Regions from separate parts of the Homo sapiens genome. Here region 2 is linked to region 1. Evidence: fine-mapped expression QTL. Tissue or cell type: whole blood. Region 1 holds a variant in brackets; the other region holds the start of a gene. All regions are shown on one strand. Distances are from middle to middle.

Region 1 (2,687 bases):
ACCCAGCTAATTTTTGTATTTTTAGTAGAGATGGGGTTTCACCATGTTGACCAGGATGGTCTCCATCTCCTGACCTCATGATCTGCCCCGCCTCGGCCTCCCAAAGTGCTGGGATTACAGGTGTGAGCCACCACTCCCAGCCGAGGATATAATATTTAAGAAAATTGCCTAAGGTCAGACAGATACCAAGTAGAAGAGTGGTGTGGTAGACAACGTCATGTTCATTCCAACGGAAACTGAATGTTCATTCCAATGGAAATAATCAAATTATTTCATCAAATATGATCCCATATCTAGGACTACATAAAAATGAGGTTTCTTTTAATCTTTATCAGAGAGGCTTATTTAAGTACATTTTTTTTCACATTTCAAGTAAACCCCACTTAGTGGGAAAATAGCTGCTAATATTTTAAGACTTGTAATGTAGCTTCAGTCTTAACATATAAAAAAAAAAGAAAGACTCTCAATTAAAACAAATACAAAGTCCCCTCCCACCCAAACTTAGTATTTCAATTAGCTATAATGGTTAAGTTCCTGAATCCAGTGATATTTTCATTTATGAAGGAGAGGGACTAAATCTCCTAAATAAAAAGAAAGCAGAATTTCAATGACTTTTAAAGACAACCTAGTTCTTATAATCTTCAAGGATACATGTATGAAACTAGGGTAGATGAACAAAGTTAATGTCCCCAATTCTTCATTTCTCCTTTTATCCATGACATTTGTAATGTGACTTTGGAGCAATTCCCATCAAGAGGTGGAATATATTTTCCCGTCCCTTGATTCTGAACTCAACCATGTGATTTTCCATGGCTAAGAGGATGTTAGCAGTTGTGATGAAAACAGAGCTTGAAAGTTTAGTTGTATTCTTTCGGCTTTTGTTCTTGTGCTTTGCCCAAGACTGAAGATATGATTTGGGGGCTAGGCTATTGGGAGATTGGGACACAGGGAGCAGTTGACCCTACAAATGTGAACAAGCCCAGCCAAGATAAGCAAAGCTGCTTAGCTAATTTCCAGCTGATTCCATGTGCACAAGTGATTAAGACAGTGTTGTGTGCTACTAAGGTTTGGTGGTTGTTACCAAGCATTACTGTGGCAAAGGGTGTAACAGACACAGAAACCATGTAATATCCTTGCTTTCTTCTGCTGGCAAACTTGGTCTGAATACTTCAAACTCTAAAAGTGGTATATAATATTACTCATATAATCATTTTAGAAAGCATCACTTTGTATTATACATTGTTTAAATTTTGTAGCCACTGAACAAAGAAACCTAAATTATGTTCATTGACAAGGAACATAATTGCTAACACGTGAATCACTTGAGCTCTAAAAATTTCCACCATTTATTGATCGCAGGCACTATTGTGTTAAATTTTTCTTTTTCTTTCTTTTCTTTTTTTTTGAAACGGAGTCTTGCTCTGTTCCCAGGCTGGAGTGCAGTGGCGTGATCTCGGCTCACTGCAAGCTCCACCTCCCAGGTTTACGCCATTCTCCTGCCTCAGCCTCCC[G/A]AGCAGCTGGGACTACAGGCGCCCGCCACCACGCCCAGCTAATTTTTTATACTTTTAGTAGAGACGGGGTTTCACCGTGTTAGACAGGATGGTCTCGATCTCCTGACCTCGTGATTCACCTGCCTCGGCCTCCCAAAGTGCTGGGATTACAGGCGTGAGCCAGCGTGCCCGGCCTGTTGTGTTAAATTTACACCACCTTGTTTAATGTTCACAGCTACTTAATAAGATCAACATGATTGCCCCGCTTACACAAAAAATAACTAAGGCTCCTAGAGGTTAAATAGCATAGCCAAGAAAAAAACCCACAACTGGCTGGGCACAGTGGCTCATGCCTGTAATCCCAGCACTTTGGGAGGCTGAGGTAGGTGGATCACTTGAGGTCAGGACTTCGAGACCAGCCTGGCCAACATATGAAGCCCCCACCCCTACTAAAAATACAAAAATTAGCCAGGCGTGGTGGTGGGCACCTGTCATCCCAGTTACTTGGGAGGTTGAAGCAGAAGAACTGCTTGATCCCGGGAGGAAGAGGTTGCAGTGAGCTGAGATTGCACCACTGCACTCCAGTGAGACTCTGTCTCAAAAAAACCCCCAAAGAAACCCCAGGACTTTCTGACTCCACAGTCTATATGCCACTATTTCTAAAAATCTTTAAGCAAAGTTTAAATGCCTTAAGATTTTAGCTAAGAACGTAACCATATGTCCTCATAACAGCTGAAGTGAAGTTGGTCACTATGGCCAGTTTTCTATCACTGAGACTTTTAAAAAGGAGAAGAGATTAAAAAAGTCGAATTTCATCTAGTAAACTGGAAGTGTTAATGAAAAATAAAATGGAAGATGATGATAAAGTATTATCTCCAATGTCCCAACCATTTTCAATATTAGGAGGTTACAGGCATCATCAAAAATTTCTGGGTCACACAAAAAAGATGTCCTGTTCACTAAATACTCTAGGACATAAAAACCTATAAACTGACCTTCAGGGTCAGCAACCTCTGATAATAATATGGGTGAAGAATATTATTCTCATCTATAATAATGCCAGATAAATATTTCTTTAACATTAAGAATTGAAAGTTTTGAATTCTACAATAGAGGCCTGACTTTGTCTTGAAATGTAAAGATGTGCTGATAAAAATGTTTCCTAGAAAATATGGCATAAGTACGATCTTTTGCTGC
Region 2 (2,687 bases), 500 kb after region 1:
TCAAAGGAGAATAGAGAAGTGTGACTCAGAGCAGGGTTCATTTCCAGGTCCTTGCTGTAGATAGGATGATGCCATTCACACTCTGAGAAATCTCTTCCCATCGCTCTCCGAAGGAAGTCTAAACCAGATGGTAACTTAGCTTAGCTGCAAAGAAAATAAGAGCCACCAACAATTTAATGTTTTTCAAACTGCCTGGACAATCTTTTCCTTCCTCATACAGGCACGATAACAGAAGTGGCCGGTGGAGGGTGGCCCATTGAGTGCCCATGATGCAGTCCAACCAAGAAACAAAGTTCTCTGCACACCCCTCGCCCAGGCAAAAAGAGAAAGTAAAAGCAACCGGTTGCTGCCAAGGGGTGTGGTGTGGTGGGGCTGGCACTACCCTGAACATCAATGAAGGCTGTCTGTTTCTGGTCCTGCTTCCGCAGTGAGAGGCAGCAGGTCCCCAAGCAGGCGACCTGCCCTTCACCGTGAGGCTGTCAGCCTTGGGGGAGCGGGGTCATTTGGAGCTGATAAACCAATGAGAAGAAAGGTTTGTTGCTCTAGGCGGTGGGTGAGGGCATCATAGCTGACTCTTGGTCTTGGTCACTTTCGGAGGAGATGGTTTATTTAACCTGACTTCCTTCCTGATGCGCACCGTAGGCGCAGTGAAATCCGGGAATCGTGGGGAATCCTTGGCGCTGTGGGTGGAGGCTCCTCTTGGCCCTGTGGCCAAGGTGACCAAGGGCCGAAGGAAAAGCGAGAACGGGAGGGACGGGACGCAAGAGGGCAGATGGGGAACCCCATACTCCAGCAACATTATATAAGAGAGGCGACGATGGAGCAGCGCACCCGGCCAAAAAAGCCTCCGTGCGCCTACTCTACGGTGCACCGCGTCCCCTCTGCACCAGAAGGGCCCTGTCCTCCCACATCCACCGCGCCCTCCTCCGGGCCCCCGAGGGCACTGGGGCGCTTCCTCTGCCAGACCTCCCCTGCGACTCACTCTTCCGGCTCCAGAGCCCCCCCGCCCCAACAGCAAAGCAGCCGTGACCTGCCCCAGGGGCGCAGCCCTGCCCCAGGCTGGAAGGCAGCAGAGCTGTGGCGTCGAGGCACCCAGCGGACTGCGGGGCTGGCGTGCCCGCGGTTACCTGCGCGGCCAGAGGGCTCCGCGAGATCGAAGAACCAGAAGAGCAGCATGAGGAGCCCCGCCGGGCGGCGAGGGGTCGCCCAGCCTGTCCTCATCCTGAGCTGGCGCAAGCCTTCCGGCCGGGTCCTCGGGCGCACGCGGCTCCCGCCCCGCCTGCTGAGCGCGGCCTGCCCCGCCCGCACCTCTGTCTAGGCCTCTGGGGGCGCCCCGGCCCCGCCCCCGCCGCCCTCGGCCAATCAGACGTGCGTCTCCTCGGCCCCGGGGCGGAGCGGGCCAGGTGTGGGAAATGAACAGGGCTGGGCGCTAGATACCTGCGTGGGGTAGGACCCGCGAGGAAGAGGTACGTGCGGATCGGTGGGAGAGCCAGGCACCAGACAGGCTCCTGCACTGGAGGGTTCGGTCCCCGCCTCTTCATCAGCCAAGCTGGGGAGATGCGGCCCTTACTGGGACTTGGCACCGCCCTGGTGGGTGGGTTCTATCAGTTTAGAACCTTGGCCTCTGCCTGGCGCACTGTGGTCAGGGACGACTTCTCCATTCCAGCCTGGACTGGAAAGGGACCCATGATCTCTTCTACCCCGGAGGAGGAAGTGAGCACCTGCCCTGTGGGTGGCTGCGGCCAAGCCTAAGAATTCAGTCGTCCTTGGCAACGTCTTGGGTATTTTGACAGTGCAAACAAAGGTGGAATAATGGTACACTGCAGTTCTACCCATAGTTGTTAAAGAATTAAAAGCAAGAATTACTAGAATGACCAAACGACACTTCCAAGGATGACTTATGCTTTATAAAAAGTTGACCTTTGCGAGTAAGCTCTTTGCTTAATAATTTAATGATAATAATAATTAGCTGGTAGAAATGTAGAAGTCTGCATGCAGAACCAGAAATTTCATGTCCCACTCACTCTCTTCCTGTGGACACTGCTATCATTATAAAGAGGCCAAATTCTTAATGACCTAAGTTGCTCAAATGTGAATGTTTTATACTTTTAAATCTCGTCTTTGCTGAGCACATAATGTGTACTTGAGGTGGCCTCCATCCTTGTTGCATGAGGATGCAAAGACCTAGGTTGCTCTTCCTGACTCCCACTGCCAAGGTTTCACAGTTGGCTCCCAAACCTGCTCTGTCCTCTCCCCAGGGTCTGGCCTTTCAGTTCCATAGATATAGTGAGCACCTGCCATCACAGGATCTGGGCACGCCATGGAACAGAAGGACAAAAAGACAACATCTCTGCCCTCCCCTGAATACTGGGGAGACTGAGGCACTGTGATGGATAATATTGTCAGCTCGATTGATATGAACGAATGCAAAGTATTGTTCCTGGGTGTGTCTGTGAGGGTGTTGCCAAGGAGATTAACAGTGGACTGGGAGAGGCGGACCAGCCCTCAGTCTGGGTGGGCACCATCTCATCAGCTGCCAGCATGGCTAGAATAAAAGCAGGCAGAAGTTGGAAGGACTTGACTGGCTGAGTCTCCTGGCCTTCACCTTTCTCCCGTGCTAGATGCTTCCTACCCTCGAACATCGGACTCCAGGTTCTTCAGCTTTTGGACTCTTAGACCTATAAAAG

What was found. PIP is the estimated chance that this variant, and not a neighbour inherited with it, causes the effect.
Region 2: LY75 starts here. The variant in region 1 is fine-mapped to the expression of LY75 in whole blood (INTERVAL, PIP above 0.99).

Annotation. Positions count from the first base shown.
Region 1 is chr2:159,405,369-159,408,055 of GRCh38, forward strand. The region is part of intron 14 of BAZ2B (bromodomain adjacent to zinc finger domain 2B); the gene reads right to left. Among named protein-coding and RNA genes, the nearest start is that of WDSUB1, 120 kb to the left of the region's middle. The variant G/A (reference allele first, on the strand shown) is at 1,512.
Region 2 is chr2:159,903,462-159,906,148 of GRCh38, forward strand. It overlaps LY75 (lymphocyte antigen 75), which reads right to left and starts at 1,295. Exons shown (of 35, transcript NM_002349.4): 1 at 1,128-1,295. The coding sequence starts at 1,221. It overlaps LY75-CD302 (LY75-CD302 readthrough), which reads right to left and starts at 1,295. Exons shown (of 38, transcript NM_001198760.1): 1 at 1,128-1,295. The coding sequence starts at 1,221. RefSeq lists enhancers at 207-256, 307-356, 577-626, 767-846 and silencers at 1,027-1,486, 1,256-1,497.